4 linked regions of the Homo sapiens genome follow. The protein of the gene in region 2 interacts with the protein of the main gene of each other region in a pairwise test. Each region holds a gene or a part of one and is shown on either strand. Other genes may lie near its edges.

What was found.
Region 1: the proteins of CAMK2A (region 2) and MAPK8IP2 interact in binary tests that used the Homo sapiens proteins (3 or more experiments, as listed by UniProt).
Region 3: the proteins of CAMK2A (region 2) and C1orf94 interact in binary tests that used the Homo sapiens proteins (3 or more experiments, as listed by UniProt).
Region 4: the proteins of CAMK2A (region 2) and RAB5A interact in binary tests that used the Homo sapiens proteins (3 or more experiments, as listed by UniProt).

Annotation. Positions count from the first base shown.
Region 1 is NC_000022.11:50,609,567-50,615,241, forward strand, and holds the end of MAPK8IP2 (C-Jun-amino-terminal kinase-interacting protein 2), read left to right. Parts: intron 1-645; coding exon 646-744; intron 745-1,140; coding exon 1,141-1,213; 3' UTR 1,214-4,412; downstream 4,413-5,675. UniProt on the Homo sapiens protein: The JNK-interacting protein (JIP) group of scaffold proteins selectively mediates JNK signaling by aggregating specific components of the MAPK cascade to form a functional JNK signaling module.
Region 2 is NC_000005.10:150,220,333-150,224,712, reverse strand, and holds part of CAMK2A (calcium/calmodulin-dependent protein kinase type II subunit alpha), read left to right. Parts: intron 1-1,495; coding exon 1,496-1,724; coding exon of another isoform or gene 1,725-1,728; exon of another isoform or gene 1,729-1,753; intron 1,754-1,999; coding exon 2,000-2,003; 3' UTR 2,004-4,380. UniProt on the Homo sapiens protein: Calcium/calmodulin-dependent protein kinase that functions autonomously after Ca(2+)/calmodulin-binding and autophosphorylation, and is involved in various processes, such as synaptic plasticity, neurotransmitter release and long-term potentiation.
Region 3 is NC_000001.11:34,213,681-34,218,031, reverse strand, and holds part of C1orf94 (uncharacterized protein C1orf94), read right to left. Parts: intron 1-4,351.
Region 4 is NC_000003.12:19,976,871-19,982,359, forward strand, and holds part of RAB5A (ras-related protein Rab-5A), read left to right. Parts: intron 1-1,439; coding exon 1,440-1,533; intron 1,534-3,090; exon of another isoform or gene 3,091-3,304; intron 3,305-5,489. UniProt on the Homo sapiens protein: The small GTPases Rab are key regulators of intracellular membrane trafficking, from the formation of transport vesicles to their fusion with membranes.

The DNA.
Region 1 (5,675 bases), on a different chromosome or scaffold from region 2:
CCATGGGGGAATGGACGGGTCGGCCAGTTTCAGGGGTGGGGGTGGGGCAGCGTCCTGCTGCAGAACTCTGCCTGCCTCTCCCTCTGGACGACGATTTTTGATTTTTGCTAATGTCTGGGTGGAGGAGCTGGGCAGTGACTCCATGAGCGAGGCCCCGCAAGGAGCTGCTTTCCAGTGGGAGCGAGGGGTAGACCGGAAGAGGGTTTTACAGACCAGGGGTAACGTCCAGCCCCACCTCGGAGCTGGGCAAGGGGCTGTCAGTCTGCTAGGCCCGCAGGAGGAGGCCTGAGTTGGCAGGAGATATGGTCTCCAGTAGCCAGGCAGAGGCCTTGCTCTGTGGTCCTGGGGCAGGCCCTGAATAGGGCCACAGAGGGTAGCAGCACCGGCTCAGAGAAGGGAGAGTGGACGCCCCTGGTCATCATGGAATTAACTCAGAGCGTGAACTCTTGGTAGGTGCCCAGCCCTGTGCTTGGGCTGAAACCAAAAAAAGACAACTTCAGATCTTGAAATTGTGCGACCCCCACACTCCTGTCCCTTACCCTCTCCCCAAGCCCTTTGTTCCTGCCTCTTCTCTCTACATCATTTGTGGGGTGGCCAAGGCTGGGCCAGGGCTCTGACGTGCCCTCCACACTGACTTGCCCGCAGCTATTTCGGCTTCATCACCAAACACCCCCTGCTGAGCCGCTTCGCCTGCCACGTCTTTGTCTCCCAGGAGTCCATGAGGCCGGTGGCGCAGAGTGTGGGGTGAGTGGGGCCCCAGGGTGTGGGTGCAGAATGGGTGCAGGGTTACGGAGGTGGGGAGCGGAGGTGAGCAGGTGGGGGCAGGAGCCTGGCAGGGGAGGTCTGGGGAAGGAGAACCAGATGTGCTGTGTAGAGAGGGCAGTGGTGGGTGACAGTTTGGGGTGCTGGGCATGGGGTGGGAACAGGCACAGACACATGGCCCAGGCACTCTGGCAGGGGTAGAATTGCTGGGCCAGGAGAGCTGAGGGTCACACTTGGGGGTGACATGGCCATGCCTGGGTGGGGGGTTATGGATGGCTGCAGAGGGAGGAAGGAGGGAGAGCTCAGAGGCTCTGTGGAAGGCAGTTTGGGGGTTGAGGACCGGCCCTGAGTGGCTGGTGGAGGACCGTCTTTCCCCAGCCGCGCCTTCCTGGAGTACTACCAAGAGCACCTGGCGTACGCCTGCCCCACGGAGGACATCTACCTGGAGTAGCCTGCCCACCGCTCTGTCTCCTGGCCGTCTGCTCCAGGCGCAGCTGGGGCTGAGGATGTCTCAAGAGGCCACCATGGCTTTGGCAAGGACTGGATTGGGGGGACATGGGACCTTACGCTTGTGGGGGTCTGCGGGCTGGGAACTCTCGTCCTCGGTCCCCAGGGCGCAGCTGTTGGGGCTGCGGGGGAGTGGAGCCCCCGTGCCCCTGCTTTTCCTCAGATCCGTTCTTTCTCTGTGTTGTCCTCCTCCTTCCCTTCCCAGTCTCCCTTTTCTCTCTCCTGGTGTCTCTGCCCCTCTCTGTGCCTGCAAACCTTATCCTCTATTCTTCACTTTGGGGTCAGAACTTCGGGGGTGTGGAGGAGGTGCGGCTCTAGGGACAGGTAATGTCGGCTTCCAAGTGATGCCCTCCTGCCACTCCCCTGCGATTTATAAGGGAATTTTAATTTTTATAGTGAATCTCAAGGGATCATCCCATCCTTGACCACAGGGACAAGAGGGGCCCCCTCGCCCCAGCCCCACCCCACATGGAGCTCAGGGGGAAGCAGGGAGGGGTTCCCAAAAGAGCCCTGCGGAGGCTAGGAGTGGTTCTTGATGCTCACCTGAAGCCCCTAGACGCTGCTAGGAGGGGGGGCCCTCCTGGGCCCCCAATACCCCTCCGCTTGCCGCTGCTAGCGCACCCCTGCAGTCCAGCGTGCATCCACCCCACGCACGCCCCGTGCTGTGTTCCTGGGCCCTGCCCATGGCCTCAATAAACTCTCTGCTTGGTGTGACATTGGCTGTTTCTAGAGGGTGCTAAGACATGGGGCCAGGTGCCCAGGGGCTGCCCATTGTGGTAGGGACAGAGTCCCCAGTGGCGGGAGTGTTGTGGCAATCTCACCCTTTTAGCTCTTTCCGAAATTGTGCCGGGGGTCCCTGCGGTGCTGCTCTGGGGCCTTATCTGAGGTGCCGTATCTAGAAGCACCCTTGGGAATTCTCCCTAGATACACTCGATTGGCCACAGAGGAATCCGAGGCTGTGCAATGGGGTGTCCTTTCCACGTGCACGGACTGGGGGCCAGCACGGCTCAGGTCAGTGTGTAGTGGGGGCATGAACTCCTTGAAGAACAATCTGGCCGGGCACGGTGGCTCACGCTTGTAATCCCAACACTTTGGGAGGCCGAGCCGGGGCGTATCACCTGAGGTCAGGAGTTTGAGACCAGCTTGGCCAACATGGTGAAACCCCATCTCCACAAAAAATACAAAAATTAGCTAGGTGTCCTGGCGCACACCTGTAATCCCAGCTACTCAGGAGGCTAAGGCATGAGAATCGCTTGAACCTGGGAGGCGGAGGTTGCAGTGAGCCAAGATTGCACCACTGCACTCCAGCCTGGGCGACAGAGGGAGACTCCGTCTCAGAAAAAGGAAAAGAAAAACAATCTACTTAGATCTTAAAATGGATATTTAAAAAATTCTCCAGAGAAAGCCAGAAGAAAATAGGTGACTTTTTCACTATGTGCTTAGGTGACTGCAGATGCCCGGCAATGTTCCCTCCCAGGCCCTCCTGGGTGAGCCCGCCTCCCAGGCAGGGGTCAGCATGGCCGGGGTCCCTCTGTCTGAGCCCAGGATTCGTGCAACACCAGGAAGACAACAGTTGAAGGTTCCTTAGTGAGCTAAGGGAAGTATACACAAACTTACTACATAAACATTAGAAAGTGCTGTCCGTAAAAAACACGTCTTCACAGAGCCAACAAGCAGAGAAATAGCTGCCCAGTGTTAGGAAGTGCATCATGATCCAGAGGTTCAGCCCGTGTGCAGCGCACAGACCTGAGGCCCCAGAGAGACCGAGGACGCAGACCAGTGGCACGACGGAAACGCAGAACGTTTATGAGAAAACTTTCCTACTAATTGAGATAAAGCTGTAAAGAGGCAGATAGCCCCACTGGGTGTGTACGTTTGAAACTTGTGCCCCCTGGGCTAGGGCATTCGGGGTGTGGCCCTCAGTCCCCTGTAGCTGCTGCCTGGAAACCGCTGCCACCCACCCACCTCCTCCCTCTGCTCTTCCACTCAGGTGAGAATTCTCCAAGCCCTGCCCTCCGGCGCCCCCGTCCCGCCCCTGCCCGGCCTGGCCCCGCCCCTGCCCGGCCCCGCCCCCCAACGTGTCTTCAGGTCTCTTTCCCTCCAGCCGGCCCTTAGGACGGCTGTTGGACGTGCTCGTGAGTCCTTCGCCTGTCTGCCTTCCACCTCTCTGCAGCTCCTTCTCCAATCTCATGGTCTTCTTGAGCTTGGCCGCCCTCCACGCCCCATGCTGGGCTTGGTCGGTTCTGGGGTCTACCTCTCTGGCTTCATCCCTCCCACAGTTTCGAGGGTTTCCCTGTGCTCAGGCCCCTGGCAGCCGCCCCCTGTGCAGACCACTGGGCAGATCCAGCTGACCTCCAGGGGCACTTCCTCGGCTCATCACTGGGCCGGTGCTCTGCAGAATGAGCTGTGAGAGCCACTGTGGCTGGCCAGAGGGTGCCACTCACAGTCACTTCAGACTCACAGGAGCCTTCGTCCCGACCCCTGCATTCATCTGTGTTCTGTTTTATGTTTTTTCCCAGTCACCTGAGCTGCAGGCCTTGGTCACCCCAGACTCCTCCCTCCTGTCACCCTTATCCTCACCCCAGCACCTTTACGTCTGCCCCAGGCTCCATTTCCCCCTCTTCTGCCTGGATCAAACCACCCTGACTTTCCTGGGTCTTCGTGCAACAGCCTGCTCCGGCCGCTGCCTCACTGCACCTGCAAATCCACTTGCACCCACACCCAGGCCAGGGTTTTTAAACAGAAGCCTCAGCAGATCCCTCTCTCTGGCCAGCTCCCTGTTGAACCAGGAAGCAGGTCCCTGTTGAACCTCAGCATGACCCGCCCCCACCCCTGCATCCCACTTCTGCTCTGGGAGCCTCTGGGTTCCTGGGCGCACCTGCTGCCCTTCCCTGTTTGTCACTGGGTGACCTCCCGTCCTTGTGGGCGCTCCCGGGCCCTGGTCTCGGGCCTTCTGAGGACTTGCTCTCCTGGTAGCGGCTGCTGACTGTGAGCCCAGAGAGCAGGCGTGGCTGTTGACCTTAGGTCCTCCCAGAACCTGGCGGATCGCCTGGCTCCCAGGCAGGAGGCGCTGCATGACGCCTCCAACTTCCGCCAATCTAGCCCAAGGATGGCGTTCTAAATAAAACGCGTTCTACAGAAAAGTGTTTATTGCATTCTTCTTTGAAATAATGTAAGCATAAAAGTAATCTGAATATTGACCAATAGGGTTAATTGATTAAGGTATATTTACCTAATTGAAATATTGGGTAGATGTGAAAAAAAGTTCCAATGTTTGTAATTACACAGAAAATTTCTGTTATGCTATTAAGTGGAAATAAATTTCTGGGCACAGCAGCTCATGCTACTGTGTAATCTTAGCAATTTGGGAGGCCAAGGTGGGCAGATCCCTTGAGTCTGGGAGTTCGAGACCAGCCTGAGCAACAAAGCGAAACCTCTATCTCTACAAAAAAAAAAAAAAAAAAATACAAAAATTATCTAGGTGTGGTGGCACACACCTGTAGTCCCAGTTACTTGGGTGGGTAAGGGAGGAGGATAGCTTGAGCCTAGGAGGTTGAGGCTGCAGTGAGCCATGATCATGCCACCACACTCTGGCTGGAAAGAGCAAGACCCTGTAACCACAATGAAAGAAAAGAAGAGAGAGAGAGAGAGAGAAAGAGAGAGAGAGAGAGAGAGAGAGATGAAAGAAAGAAAGAGAAAGAAAGAAAATAGGCAGGGTCATATGTAGCATTCTAGAAACTATATGTTGAAAAATGCTGAAACACAAAAAATGTTAAAAGTCATTTTTGGCCGGGCGCAGTGGCTCATGCCTGTAATCCCAACACTTTGGGAGGCTGAGGCAGGCGGATCATGAGGTCAGGAGATCGAGACCATCCTGGCTAACACGGTCAAACCCCATCTCTACTAAAAATACAAAAAATTAGCCGGGTGTGGTGGCAGGCGCTTGTAGTTCCAGCTACTCGGGAGGCTGAGGCAGGAGAATGGCATGAACCTGGGAGGCGGAGCTTGCAGTGAGCCAAGATCGCGCCACTGCACTCCAGCCTGGGAGACAGAGCAAGACTCCGTCTCAAAAAAAAAAAAAAAAAAAAAAAAAAAAAAAAAAAAAACCACCTCATTTTTGCTGAAGTTGAGCTGAGGGTGTTTCTCTTCCTTTTTTTCCTGCAGCAAATATGTCTTAATTTTTTGAAGTATTATTTGCTACTTATTAGAGACCTCCAAGTGCAAATGGAAATATCCACAGAAAAACTAAAGATAAAAAAGTTAAGATAAATTAATCAAACTCAAACAAAAAAGTTATTTTGGCTACAATAAAAATACCACCCCATAAGGTTATCATAAGGCTTAAATGAATCTGCCAGTCAGACAGGCCAAGGGTAGTGCTTGAGTAAGTTATTATTTTTATAAAC
Region 2 (4,380 bases):
AGATTCTATAGTTCGGCTGCTGGGTGACCTCTGACCTCTGAGGTCACTCCCAAGTCTATGACGCTGAAACCCTACATTCTGTATGTCTGAGAGCCCAAATTCAAAGTCTGTTATTCTATGGTGCCTAAGACTTGGTGATTTTAAGTCCTTATTCAAAGCCTGGGTGTAGCGTGCTTCTGATATTAGGGGATGGGTGTTATTGGATATTTTCTGCAATCCTGAAAAAAAAAGACATTTTACATTTTTCAGGAAATAAGTGGCTCACAAACCTGGCTTGGCACCAGGATCAAGTGGTAGGGAAGGAGAAGGGAGATTTTTAATATTAGAGATTCTTGAACTGGGCTCTCTAAGGGTGGGGTTGGGGAAGCTGTGTTTTAAGTCAGCACCTCACATGATTCAGACCTATATTCGGGCTACACAAAGGGAAGGGCTCCTCTCAAGCCCAAGATACAGATCACCACTGTCCAACCCCTCCCTGGGTCATTGTCTTTCTATGCTTTCATTTCCTATCTTGAGGAAAACATCGAGTTTCTAGAATTAATATAATAATAGTCCTGGAGATGCCTCATGTTTCATCTGGTGGAAGCTGGTGTCAGGGACTTTGTCAGCCCCATCATGATTCCAAGAGCTATGCATCTCTCCCTAACGCTGGAAAGTCCCATGACCTCACCCCATGACCACCAATACCATCCTTATCATTTCAAGGTTCTAAGATTCTACAATTTTCATATTCCTCCACGTTTCCACAATTCTGTATATCTACAGTAGAAGTAGATATACAGTAGAAGTAGATATACTTCAGACAGGCCCACGGGCCGTGTCTGAACTGTAGATATGTTTCACTTGGCTTGCATGATGTTTTAAATTTGAATTAGATGCCAATACTAAAAAATGAAGAGTTTTCATATAAAAATTCAGATTTCCAGATTCTCTTGAAAAACGAGGCACGTCAACACTGGTCTCACTCACATGGCAACCACCAGGGAAGCTGTGTGCAGGATGCCCTCTTTAGGTGGGACAAGACATTCTATTCGCCACAGTCCCCATCACTCCCTATCGCCTCCCTGACCCAGAGGCAAAGGGTCAGTTGTCATTTAGCATCTTATACCCAGCTCAGCCCCCGTTGTTTATGTGCCTGCCTGGTACCTGGGGGGATCCGGATTTGAGACTGTGCTCACAGCTCTTCTGGTTCTATGATCCTCTAGGCTTATTCCATGTGGCTAACGGTCATGATTCAAACATTCCATTTTCTCATGTTTGATGAATTCTGCATGTCTGAACTCCACTGTATCTAAACTAGGATGTGATGTCCCCATCATCTAGAAGTTCTACCTTGATCCCAGGTAGCTGAGTCCTGCCACACAGGCCCCTTCCCTGCAAATGAGTCAGGCAGGGCGCCTCCATTGAGAGGGCTGCTGGGAGTGGAGAAAGTGAAGAAAGTGAGACAGGAGGCCCCCGGTTGCATCTCCTCTGCCCCTCCCATCCCCTCCTCCAGTGTGGTCCCGGAACAGCAAGCCCGTGCACACCACCATCCTGAATCCCCACATCCACCTGATGGGCGACGAGTCAGCCTGCATCGCCTACATCCGCATCACGCAGTACCTGGACGCTGGCGGCATCCCACGCACCGCCCAGTCGGAGGAGACCCGTGTCTGGCACCGCCGGGATGGCAAATGGCAGATCGTCCACTTCCACAGATCTGGGGCGCCCTCCGTCCTGCCCCAGTAAGAATCCCTCCTTCCTGCCTCCCAGGGTAATGTAAAGGATGGGAGTGTTGCCCTGGAGGGGGTTACGTCGGGGAAGCTGCTGCCTTCAGCTCTGAAAGGCTGCAGAGTGGGGTGGGGAGACCCCAAGAAGGGGGCCAGGCCTGCAGGTCTGGGGGAAGAGCTGGGCAGGAGCCACCAGGGACCGCATGGACTCCATCTAAAGCGGCAGGGTGGGTGGGTTGCCCAAGCAGGAAACACCATGCCCTGAGAAGCACCCCGTGTGTGTCTTACAGCTGAGGGACCAGGCTGGGGTCGCTGCGTTGCTGTGCCGCAGAGATCCACTCTGTCCGTGGAGTGGAGCTGCTGGTTCTCCCAGGTGGATTTTGCTGGAATTCTCCCATGTCATCACCCCACCACCGTCACTTCTGTACCTGCATCAAGAAAACCTGCTTGTTCACAAAAGTCATCGCAACTTCAGAGCGAACGGCCACATCTCCCCACCTCTCACCCCCACCCTCTCCCCTGCCAGGCTGGGGCTTCCTCAGGCATGGGTGTCCACAGCACTGGCCCCCTCTCCCCAGCCTCAGCTGCTGTCCGCCTGATCTGTCTTGGGCTGTAGGCTAGAATGCCCGGGCTGGTGCCCACCAGGGGCTGGGGAGAAGGAGGGGTGGCATGATGAGGAAGGCAGCATCCGTCCGTCCCTCTCCCAGACCTCTCCTCTTCCAGTGTCCCCGGGGAAGGGCAGATGACACTCCCTTCCCCCTAAGCCAACCGCACTGAAGGAGTGGGGAGAAGAGCATACGCCAGGAGCCTCCTGCCTCAAAGTGCTCCCCTAAGTCTTCTTCCTCCTGTGCTGACCTCAGGGTGGTCTGACCCTTCCCTCGGTGTGGGGGATGTGGCCCTCTCAGGTGCCCCTACTTGCTTTCTGCTTCCTTCTGGTGAAGTCCACCTCCAACATTAACCTGCCCACCCCACCCCCGTCATCCCTGGAGAATTCCAGCTTTGTCGTATCTCAGAGAGGGAATCTAATTGTTTTTGGGGGGCAAAAGAAAGCAACGTTTAGGTATCACTTCTACTTGGACCGCATGCCTTTTTATAGCCAAATTTCTGTGTATTTCGTAAATGGATTTCGCGTTAATGGATATTTATGTAATAACTAGACTTCTCAGATTATTGTGAGAAGGGTCAGGTTGGAAGGGGTGTAGGAAGAGGGGTGAGGGGTAGTTTTTTTCTGTTCTAGTTTTTTTTTTTTTTTTTGTCATCTCTGAGGTGGACCTTGTCACCTGTGGTTATTGGGGCCAAGGTGGACTCAGCTCCGGGGAGAAGGGCCTCTCTGCCATTTCGGTCCCAAGGTGAGCTGACACAGGCGTTCCTTTTGGGACTGTGGAAGCATCAGATGCCAGCACTGACTCAGGAACAGCAAGTCAGGGCAGAGAGGAGGAGGGAGGCTGTCAGGATGGAAATACCTGGACTTTTCTTTGCTTCCCTCGCAAACTGGGGTCTTCTCTACCGAACTTCCCAGGATTTCATCTCACCATATCTGTGTGCCGCCCCCAGCACCCCCCACCCACCTCTGGGGGGCCCGTGAGCGTGTGTCTTCATTGCCTCTCTCCCCTTGGCGTCTGATGACCACAGCAAAGCACTGGGAATTTCTACTCTTCATGCCTCATCCTGCAGCCTCGGGTTCGCATTCTCTCTTTCTTTTCCTCTTTCCCTCTTTCCCTGGGATTGACTCTGAGTGGAATACCTTGGCACATCCACTAGGATCTACTGTCTGCACTGTTTTCTTTGCATGACTTTATACGCAGTAAGTATGTTGAAAACAAACAAAAAGAAGAAAACACTCAACAAAACCAATCTACATGTTTTGGACTAAAAAAAAAAATAGAGGTTGTATTCTCAGTGTCCGACTCGGAATTATGTTGCTGCCTCTCTGTGCTTTTGGCCTCTGTGTGGCCGTGTTTTGCCAGCATGAGATACTGTCCCCTCTGGAGGATTTTAGGGGAGGAAGAGCCACGTCCCCAGGGATTGGAGGAGGCTCCGGTACCCTCGACCCTCCTGGGTGTTGGTTGGAGCAGAACTGGTGAGGATGTTTGATCCGAGATTTTCTGAGCTCTCCCCAATCACCAGCTGTCTGCTGGGTTCTTTTCTCAAGTCCTGCTGCCCAGGCCCAGGTGAGACAGGCAACGCCAGGTCTGCAGGCCAGGAGAGATGCTGCCCAGGCCTCCTGGTTTCCAAGCTGGTCCATCACTGGCCTCTGTCCTTGGCAGAGACCTTGCTGCCCAGGCCCAGGGGCAGGCTCTTGGCCTGCCCCAGGCCCAGAGGGCTTCCCAGTAAGGCCCAGTGATCCCATTATCCCAGGGGCAAAACCACCTGTCCCCTTTTGAGCTGCCAGTTCCCTACAGCCATCCCCAGTCAAGGGTGAGGGTGTGGCCTTCACCAGGGGCTGCTGTAATTACCGAGCAAGGTCTGAGCTCTTCTTCAGCCTCAGTTCCCTCATTGGTTAAAAGGGTTCTTTGTTCCCATCCAGCCGATGAAGGAGCAAACGTCTGGCTATGTGAAGCCTAATTTACCTGCAGGAACTGGCAGGGATAGTCACTGGCTGGACTCCTGTTTACTTCTAGACCTGGTCAGGCTCCATCCCCTCCCCCACCTGCCCCTGATTCCCCTCGTC
Region 3 (4,351 bases), on a different chromosome or scaffold from region 2:
TCAAAATAGAGTTCAAAAGCCATCTCCTCTGTGAAGACTTCCCTGACCTCTCCAGATGGAATCATTTACTCACACTGCTGGAATCCTACTGTAATTTCTTCACCCATCTGCTCAGATACTTTGAATGAATGGGAACAGAACTCAATACAAATTACAATAGAGCAAATGGCTAGATTTAATCTAATCCTGGGATTCTCAATCACTTTTCAGCTGGGCAGATGCATATTATAGAAGAGATTCACATTCATGGTACCCTTCTATGAATTGATGAAACAAAAAGCGGGAGCAGAGGAGGGAAGAAGCAATGGAAATAGACCACGGCATTCATTTGTAGTGCCTCAGCAGCTAACTCTGTCTCTTGCTCACTGAGTCTCCATGGGCAAGTTGGGCTGGGTTGTCTCACTAGCTTCTCACTAAAATAAGTGCCAAGAGAGCAGAGACTTTACCTATTTCATATCATGTGCCCAGGGCCTGACACAATGTGGGTCCCTCATAAGCAATCCATGCCAGCGGTAACCCCACCTCTGTTTCTCTCTTTCAGAAATCATATTGGGATCATTCAGAAATCATAATGATGTTATTATAGGGATACCCTGCCTTCCACTCTGACTTACAAAATAAAGGCTGTAACCCATACTTCAGTATTTAACAATTATCAGTAATCAACAATGATCATGACACAGCTCATATCTGATTGGCACACATGCAGCTAGGTCCTCCAGGTTGAGAACTTCTGATCAGATCAACGGCCACCGGCATGATCTAGACAGTATGTACGCTAGAGGGCCAGGAAGAGGAGCAATCTGTGTGGACGAGAGTTAACAAGTAATGCTTCCTGGAGGAGGAGGAGCTTGAGTTGCCTGTTGAGTAGGACGAACATATGTCCTGGTTTGCCTGGGCCGGCCTCTATGTTGGTATTTCTGGTATAATTATTTTATAGTTTCATTTATTTGAAACAGAGTCTTACTCTGTCACCCAGGCTGGAGTGCAGTGGCATGATCTTGACTCACCGCAATCTCTGCTTCCCAGGTCCAAGCGATTCCTGTGCCTCATTCTCCCCAGTAGTTGGGACTACATGTGTGCACCATCACACCTGGCTAATTTTTTGTATTTTTGGTAGAGATGGGGTTTCACTGTGTTGGCCAGGCTGGTCTCAAACTCCTGACCTCAGGTGATCCACCTGCCTTGGCCTCCCAAAGTGCTGGGAATACAGTTGTGAGCCACCGTGTCTGGCCTGATATAATTATTATCTGTACTCCTTTTAACTCTCAAATTTATTATTGCTTGGAAGATAAATTGTATGGTTATTCCACCATGATGAATGTGTGCAAATTGACTTGGCAGAGGGGAGGGCTCTACTTCTCCTTCCCTGAGGACATGGAAGCCTCTCACTCCTTCCTCTCCCCTTCACACAGTTTTGTCTCTTGATTCCACCTTTTCTGCTGACCTTCCTTGTCTTCCATGCTGAACTCTCTGCTTAGGCCCATGCATACTCCCCAGCCAGGTGCAGCCTCACCTTGATCTTGTTCCATCAGCACCTCGCGTCACCACCCCAACACCAGCACTTTGTTCAGGAAACACTTTCTTCACTTGGCTTCCTGCACTCCACTTTCCCATTTTTTTCCCCACCTCACTAGATAGTCCTACTTATTCACAGAATCTTTGCTGGTTCCTCCACATCTCCGCAGCCTCTACATGCTGGAAGTCTCAAGGCTCAGCCCTTGGATCTCTTCTCTTCTCTATACTTGTGTATTTTGGGCCATCTCATCCCATCCCATCCCTTGCCTTGAAATATCATGTATATGAGAATGGCTCCCAAACGTATTACCAGCCCCAACCTCTCCCCTGAGTTCCAGACTCCTATATGCACCTACCTATCCATAGCTCCACCCATCTGTCTAATGACTTTCTCAATTTTCACATGTCTAAGACTGACTCTTGGTAAACAGATCCTTGCTGTGGTCATCATGACCTTGGTCATTTTTTGTTTTTTGTTTGTTTGTTTGTTTTATTTTGTTTTGTTTTTGAGATGGAGTTGTGCTCTGTCACCCAGGCTGGAATACAATGGCATGATCTCGGCTCACTGCAACCTCCGCCTCCCTGGTTCAAGCAATTCTCCTGCCTCAGCCTCCCGAGTAGCTGGGATTATAGGCACCCACGATTATGCCCAGCTAATTTGTGTATTTTTAGTAGAGATGGGGTTTTACCATCTTGGCCAGGCTGGTCTCGAACTCCTGACCTCAAGTGATCCACCCACCTCGGTCTCCGAAAGTGCTGGGATTACAGGCGTGAGCCACTGTGCCTGGCCCAATGACCTTAGTGTTTTGGCATTGCTGCTGCTCCAGTTGCACAAGTCAAAAACCAAGGAATTTGTTTGACTTTTCCCTTTCCCTCATCACACATTCAACCATCATCACGTCCCACCAATTCTACCAAGAAAATAACACATCACAGATCTTTTCACCTGCCCCCTTTCCCAGGGTCACTGCCTTTATCCATCCCACCAATGCCTCTTGCTCAACTATAAAGCTCTAGCCTACTCCCCTGCCTCAGCTCTTACCCTCATAGTCCATTCTTCAGACATTGACCAATGTGATCTGTTTTATATAGAAGATTAGAACATGTCCTCATCAATTTAAAAGCCTACATGGTTTTCCACTGCTCCTGAAACAAGACTTCTAGCCATGCCTACCAGGCCCTGTCTAGTCTGGCCCTGGCTACCTCTTATTTTAATTCCATGCACTCCCTCCCTCACTGTTTGTGCTGCAGCCACAGGTTCCCACCTCAGAGCCCTTGCACTTTCTATTATTTCTGCCCAGAGGCTCATCCCCGAAATGTATGTGTGGTTCATTCTCTCATCTCATTTAGATCTTGGCTCAAGAGGCTGCCCTTGATTCTTCTCCCCACCCCAACCCATATCCTGAGGACCTGGCCTTGCATGCTTGCCTGTTTATCTCCTTATTGTCCATTTCTCCTTCTAGAATGAAAGCTCCTTAGGAGAAGGAAAACCTTTTTTTCGTTCACTTCATTATCCCTGGTGTCTACAACAGTGCCAGGCACATACAAGGTGCTGGATCAATATTTTTTGAATGAACAGATCATCCCCTCTGGGTACTCAGGCTTGCATCCCTTACATTATTTTTCCGACCTCATGGTCCTGGTCTCCCCAGCCTCTCAGAACGCCAATCCACCCTGCTCCTTCTCCTCACCCTCCTCTTTGCCTCCACTGTCTCTGGCTTTCCCCAGGCTGTCTCTCACTTCTCAGGCTGCTCCTTCCTCGGGCTGCCTACCCACTCCTCCGACCTCTGCAGACATGTGGAGACCAAGTCTCAACCTTCTGGTCTCACAGCTCCCAGTCGGTGGTTCCCGAAAGCTGACTGAGGAGACATTGAGACCACCCTCCCTCCCAGACACAGCCAGGGCTATCTCCTACAGCAAGTCTATCTTCCCAGAGCCCAGAGTCACAGCACAGAATGTGGGAAGTTGGCCAACCTGCAGGGGGCTTGTCTGGGTCTCTATTCTCACCTCCAGGGGATGATAATCTGTCCCATAGGCCCCTAGAGCCACCTCTAGACCCCACCCTATCCTGCTTCCTCTTTCTCTTACTTCCAGCCCATCAATTCACTCTGATGTGCATAAATCTTCCCTGGATCCCCAGGCCTAGCAGTCCAAAGCCTTTCATAATCTAGTCTCAACCTCCCTTTTCCAATCCTATTTTCCACCTTTTTCAGAGACAAATCTAATTCTTCAGCCAGACTCCTTTATTCCCCAGGCCTCCAGCTTGCCACTTGCTTTCCCATCTGAGGGCCTTGCTCCTCCTGCCTGGAATGCCCTCCTCCCAGTGCTGCTCACTGGAACCTCCCCCGCTGCAGGGATTCTGCCTTTGTCCTCGGGCCACTTTGATGGTTTTCACTTTGCCAGGGCACTAACATTGTTGTGCCCACATTTCATCTGCTCTCAGTTCTCTGAAGGGAAGAAGCATGTCCTATTCATCTATAGGTCCCCTGCAGGCTAAATTCAAATTAACTACATGTGTCAACACAGCGTTTCCCTGGGTGTGTTAGGTAGAACACACCATGATATACTCTACAAGAGAAAGGAAGAGAAAGGGAGGGAGAGAGGAAAAGAGGGAGGGAGGGAGGAAAGAAGGAAGGAAGGAAGGAAGGAATATTTTTTTTAAAAGGATGTGGATGCTGGGCACGGTGGCTCATGGCTGTAATCCCAGCACTTTGGGAGGCTGAGGCAGGCAGATGACCTGAGGTCAGGAGTTTGAGACCAGCCTGGCCAACATGGTGAAACCCCGTCTCTACTAAAAATACAAAAATTAGCTGGGTGTGGTGGTGGACGTCTG
Region 4 (5,489 bases), on a different chromosome or scaffold from region 2:
CTTAAAGGGGCATTCAAACATAAAGGTTCTGCCAATCTGTATCCAGAGTTGGAAAATAATAAGCTAAAAACTAATAATTAAAAAAAATTTTTTTAAGGCTGAGAAAATCCAGTTTTGTATTACGATTGCTAATTCAGAATGTTTGCTGCTGCAAAATAGGCAAGTGCAATCACTTAAAAACAAAGCAAGTCCTCTATTTAGACTTTTTTTTTTTTTTTTAAGATGGAGTCTTGCTCAGTTGCCCAGGCTGGAGTGCAGTGGCGCAATCTCAAGCTCACTGCAAGCTCCACCTCCTGGGCTTACGCCATTCTGCTGCCTCAGCCTCCCAAGTAGCTGGGACTACAGGCGCCCACCACCACTCCTGGCTAATTTTTTGTGTGTTTTCAGTAGAGACAGGGTTTCACTGTGTTAGCCAGGGTGGTCTCGATCTCCTGACCTTGTGATCCACCCGCCTCCGCCTCCAAAAGTGCTAGGATTACAGGCGTGAGCCACCACGCCCGGCATACTTAGACCTTTTAAAACTGTGCCTGTTCTCTTGCTCTTTGGCTTCTCTACTAGAAGGGCGGTTGTGGCTGTTCTGTATATATCAGTGATGAAATAGTTTTCTTTTTTGATGACGTAGATGGAATCCATGTATTCTTGCATCATTAGGTATTAAGTTGGGCATGTTACATTTGTAATTTTATTTAATTCTTAGGACAACGATGTGAGATGTAGTATCCATTACTCTTTCCAAAATTGTTGCCTTCCCAGCACAAGAGTGGCAGAGAAAACACTTAAATTACAGTCAGAAGTGGCCCTGTCACATAACAGTTCAGAGGAACCTCAGTTGTTTCTTTGTCCAATGGGAAAGATCATTGGTTACCCCTCACAACAGCTATGAGGATCAAAAGTAATAATATATGTAAACTGTAAAAGCATGACAAAAATGTAGGGCAGTGATGTAATTTTCAAAGGAATGATTTATGATATATTCAAGATTATAATATTGCTGTAGAAGTCATTGAAAATTAAATATGAGGTTGTCATTTAGTGTTTGAAGCCAGTGTTAGATATTTGGTTTCCCTTTGTCTTCATTGCAGACAGTAAGTGCAAATAAAAATTGCCGTTGAGATCAAAGAGAGTTTTATTTAGAATAAGATAATTCTCCCCCATCTCTGGAACTCAGTATTTGAAAGCAGATTTAATGTAAGAAAAGATTAATCAAGGTGGGATAATGCAAGAATTTCAGACAAAAAAGGAAATAGTCCATTATAAAATTATCTTGCACAGTGCTCTTACCTCTGTTGTAGCTTATTATATAGTTGTTGATTATAGATGATTATAGGAATCAGGTTGTAGTAATAAGAAAGTCTCCTTTTCTATAACAAGTTTAAAGCAGGTGTAGTGTATTTCCAAGAGATATATCTCATATATCTCATTTTTTGTTCTGTAAACAGGAAGCACAGTCCTATGCAGATGACAATAGTTTATTATTCATGGAGACATCCGCTAAAACATCAATGAATGTAAATGAAATATTCATGGCAATAGGTAAGATTAATATCTCTTTTTAAATGATCAATATAAGCAAAACAAGTGTGAAGCATATTTGGTTTGACTGTCTCTTTTTTAAAAAATTTTTGGGGGTGGGTTTGTGTGTATGTTTATGTGTGTGTGTGAGAGAGAGAGAGAGATTATACCACTTTTCTAAGTCCCTTCCACAAAACAATATTTTGTTGGTAATATTGTTAAATTTGAAAGATGATTACCTATTAGGTTGTAATACTGTCAGTTTAGGCAGCTTCTTCCAGGTGAGTTAAGCCTTAACCTCTTAACCTGATAGTTCAGACAGACAGATTTTGCAAAGGTTTCGCTGGGAAATTTGGATAAATATTTTTTTTATTAGATTATACTTTTTAAAAATCAAATTATTGGTAAATATAACTCAGAAGAACATGACACATAAGTATACAGATTGACAAATTATTTTAATGTAAACATTATAAGGAAGATGATTTCAAAGCATAGAGGCGTAAGGAGAAAAAAGGAAAACAAAACAACATCCATACTTTATATTACCTCAGATGGTCATTTGATCTTACACAATGTTCTTGCTGTTGCTTTAAGGTACTTTTTTTTTTTTTGAGACAGTCTCGCTCTGTCGCCCAGGCTGGAGTGCAATGGTACGATCTCAGCTCACTGCAACCTCCACTTCCCGGATTCAAGCGGTTCTCCTGCTTCTGCCTCCTGAATTGCTGGGATTACAGGTGCACACCACCACGCCCAGCTAATTTTTGTATTTATAGTAGAGACAGGGTTTCACCATGTTGGTCAGGCTGGTCTCGAACTCCTGATCTCGTGATCTGCCCACCTCGGCCTCCCAAAGTGCTGGGATTACAGGCGTGAGCCACTACACCCAGCCTAAGGTACTTTCTTTTTTTTTTTTTTTGAAATGGAGTCCTGCTCTGTCACCCAGGTTGGAGTGCAGTGGGACGATCTCGGCTCACTGCAAGCTCCGCCTCCTGGATTCACGCCATTCTCCTGCCTCAGCCTCTCCTGTAGCTGGGACTACAGGCACCCACCACCATGCCCGACTAATTTTTTTTGTATTTTTAGTAGAGACGGGGTTTCACCATGTTAGCCAGGATGGTCTCAATCTCCTGACCTTGTGATCCGCCCACGTCAGCCTCCCAAAGTGCTGGGATTACAGGCGCGAGCCACTGCCCCTGGCCCTAAGGTACTTTTAACTGATGGTAATTGCTGTTTCAGTTATAAGTAATGAAGTTGGAGTAGTAATAAGCCTCCTTTTTTCTATAACAAAAATAAAGGTTGGTTTTGTTTTTTGGTTTTGGATTTTTTTTTTAACCCTTTCCTCTTTCCAGTGGTTTTAATGTATAGATTCTACCTGAAGGGTCTGTTTTGGTGGTTCTCAAAGTTTGCCGTCTGTGGTTTTCATGTGCCCAGCACTCTTCTCATCCCATAACACCTTTTATTTTACAGCACTGATTCTTAACTGGGGTGTTCACAGTCCTAACCCCAAGTAAGAAATATTCTTAAATTGAACTCATAAATAGTTAATAGCTGAATCAGAGAATAATGAAAACCCAGTAAAAGTTGCAAGTATTTTTATTATTTTTCACTAGGTGACAGAGTTTAATGGTACTTCATTCGAAATGGGAAAGAACTTGCCTTTTCTCATGTAAACTGTTTTCCTGAAAAACTCAAGTTTGCAGTTTGCTAGGGAAGTGCTGGCACAGTTGCGAAGGATTGTGTGATAATATACTCATTTTACAAATGTGACAGATGACACCCAGAATCACATCTGAAAAGTTAGAGGAAACAATGAGTTAATAGGCCTCTCAAATCAGCCTGCACTGTAAACCTTTCTCACAATATTTAAACTCTACCAGATGGGCTTTAGTTTGTACCTTTTTATTCAAACATGCTAATAAAGTCATTTTTCGAGTTAGAAAGCAGCCTACATATTTTAGTTTTTTGTTTTTTTCTGAAATCAGAATGTTGCACTTCTTAAAAGAAAATCTATGTTGTAAATGGAATTGTGGCCTTTCCATTTCCTTCACTAGGTTAGTAAATTTTTTTTTCTTTTTTTTTTTGTTATGAAGGAACACTTTGATAGATTAGTAACTTAAATCACACAGTGCACTCATAACAACTCTAATCAATGCAAGGACTAAAAAGTTACTCGTTCTAGTTTACCTCCTTCATCCTCTTAATCTCACTCACCTCTGATTTAAACACTTAGGGAACATGCTAAAGGGATACATGATTGATTACTCAATCTGGAACCTAAGTTGTTATTATATACAATATATAGTGCTATTTTGTGTCCCAGGTACCAGTGTTCAACATTTCTGGGGCTTTGCTTGTAAATACATTTGACTGGAGATTTACCATTATAATGCTATTTATGCTACCAGCCCAGAGCCAGTCCCAGAGAAGTGGCCCAATTGAAGGCTTTCTTTCCAAACTTCAGTGCTCCTGGCTCCCAAATCCATTGCCCAACCCAGCATCTAGGATTCTAAAAATGATTGATGCTGATGTAGAATGGAATGTGTAGAACAAATAAAGGATAAAAGGTTCACAATGCAACTAGGCAATCCGATCTCAAAGCAGAGTGTATTCAATTTCTGAGTAACCTGAGTCAAAGCTATGGTAAAGTTAGAGTCTTACCATAGTGGTCTGTCCCCAAGATTGATAGAGATCAGTGTGTGCAGCCACTCTTAAAATCAGTACTCTTAGTCATCTTTAATATTCTGCCTCCCCTCAAAAAATGAATTTAGCACATCAAGGATCTTATGTATTAAAACAAACTACAGCAATCTCCAACTTTACAGTGGTTTGACTTACGATTTTATAACTCGATGGGGTGAAAGTGATATGCATTTAGTACATTCTTAACTTACTACGGGATTACATACAGAAACCCATCATAAATTAAAAATATCATAAATCAGGCTGGGCGCAGTGGCTCACTACCTGTAATCCCAGCACTTTGGGAGGCCAAGGCGGGCTATCACCTGAGGTCAGGAGTTGGTCAGGAAACAAGCCGGGCCAACATGTCGAAACCCCGTCTCTACTAAAAATAGAAAAATTAGCTGGGTGTGGTGGTATGTGCCTGTAGTCCCAGCTACTTGGGAGGCTGAGGCAGGGGAATTGCTTGAACCCAGGAGGCAGAGGTTGTAGCGAGCTGAGATCGTGCCACTGCACTCCAGCCTGGGTGACAGAGCGAGACTCCGCCTCAAAAAAAAAAAAATCATAAATCAAAAACATACAACTTAGGATGGATATATCAGGATGTAGCCCCATTGTAAGTCAAGGAGCATCTGTATATCCAGCAGGTAAGTTTTTTTAATCAGTGGGAAGCACACTCCAGAGAACAGCCACTAGCTGTATAGAGCTTGGCAGAGGTAAAGCCGTAACTGCTGGTTGAGAGTGTTGTCTGAATTTGACAAGCCACACTCATCGGACTCAAATAAAATTAAGAAATAGTTTTTGGAGATGAGGTCTTCAGGATAATTCTATCTGGATTAGGTACAGCTACTGGTCAGTCAGATTAGGATTCATCAGCCCATAAAAGGAGAAAATGAGGTTGGTTGAGGTGGCTCACTCCTATAATCCCAATACTTTGAGAGGCCACGGTGGGATGATCTTCAAGGCCAGGAGTTCTAGACCAGCCTGGGCAACAGAGCAAGACCCTATCTCTACCAAAAAAAAAAAGCCAGGCATGGTGGTGCACACCCTGTAGTCTCAGCTACTTGGAAAGCTGAGGTGGGAGGATCTTTTGAGCCCAGGAGTTCAAGGCTGCAGTGAGCTATGATTGATGCACCACACTCTAACTTGGGCTACAGAGGGAGACCTTGTCTCCAAAATGAAAAGAAGTATGGCTGCAGGCTACATTCAAACTAAGATCACAACGAAGTGTTGAGTATGTATAAATGTATGTGGATATGTTTGTGTCTAAGTGTATTTCCACTAGCATGCTAAGG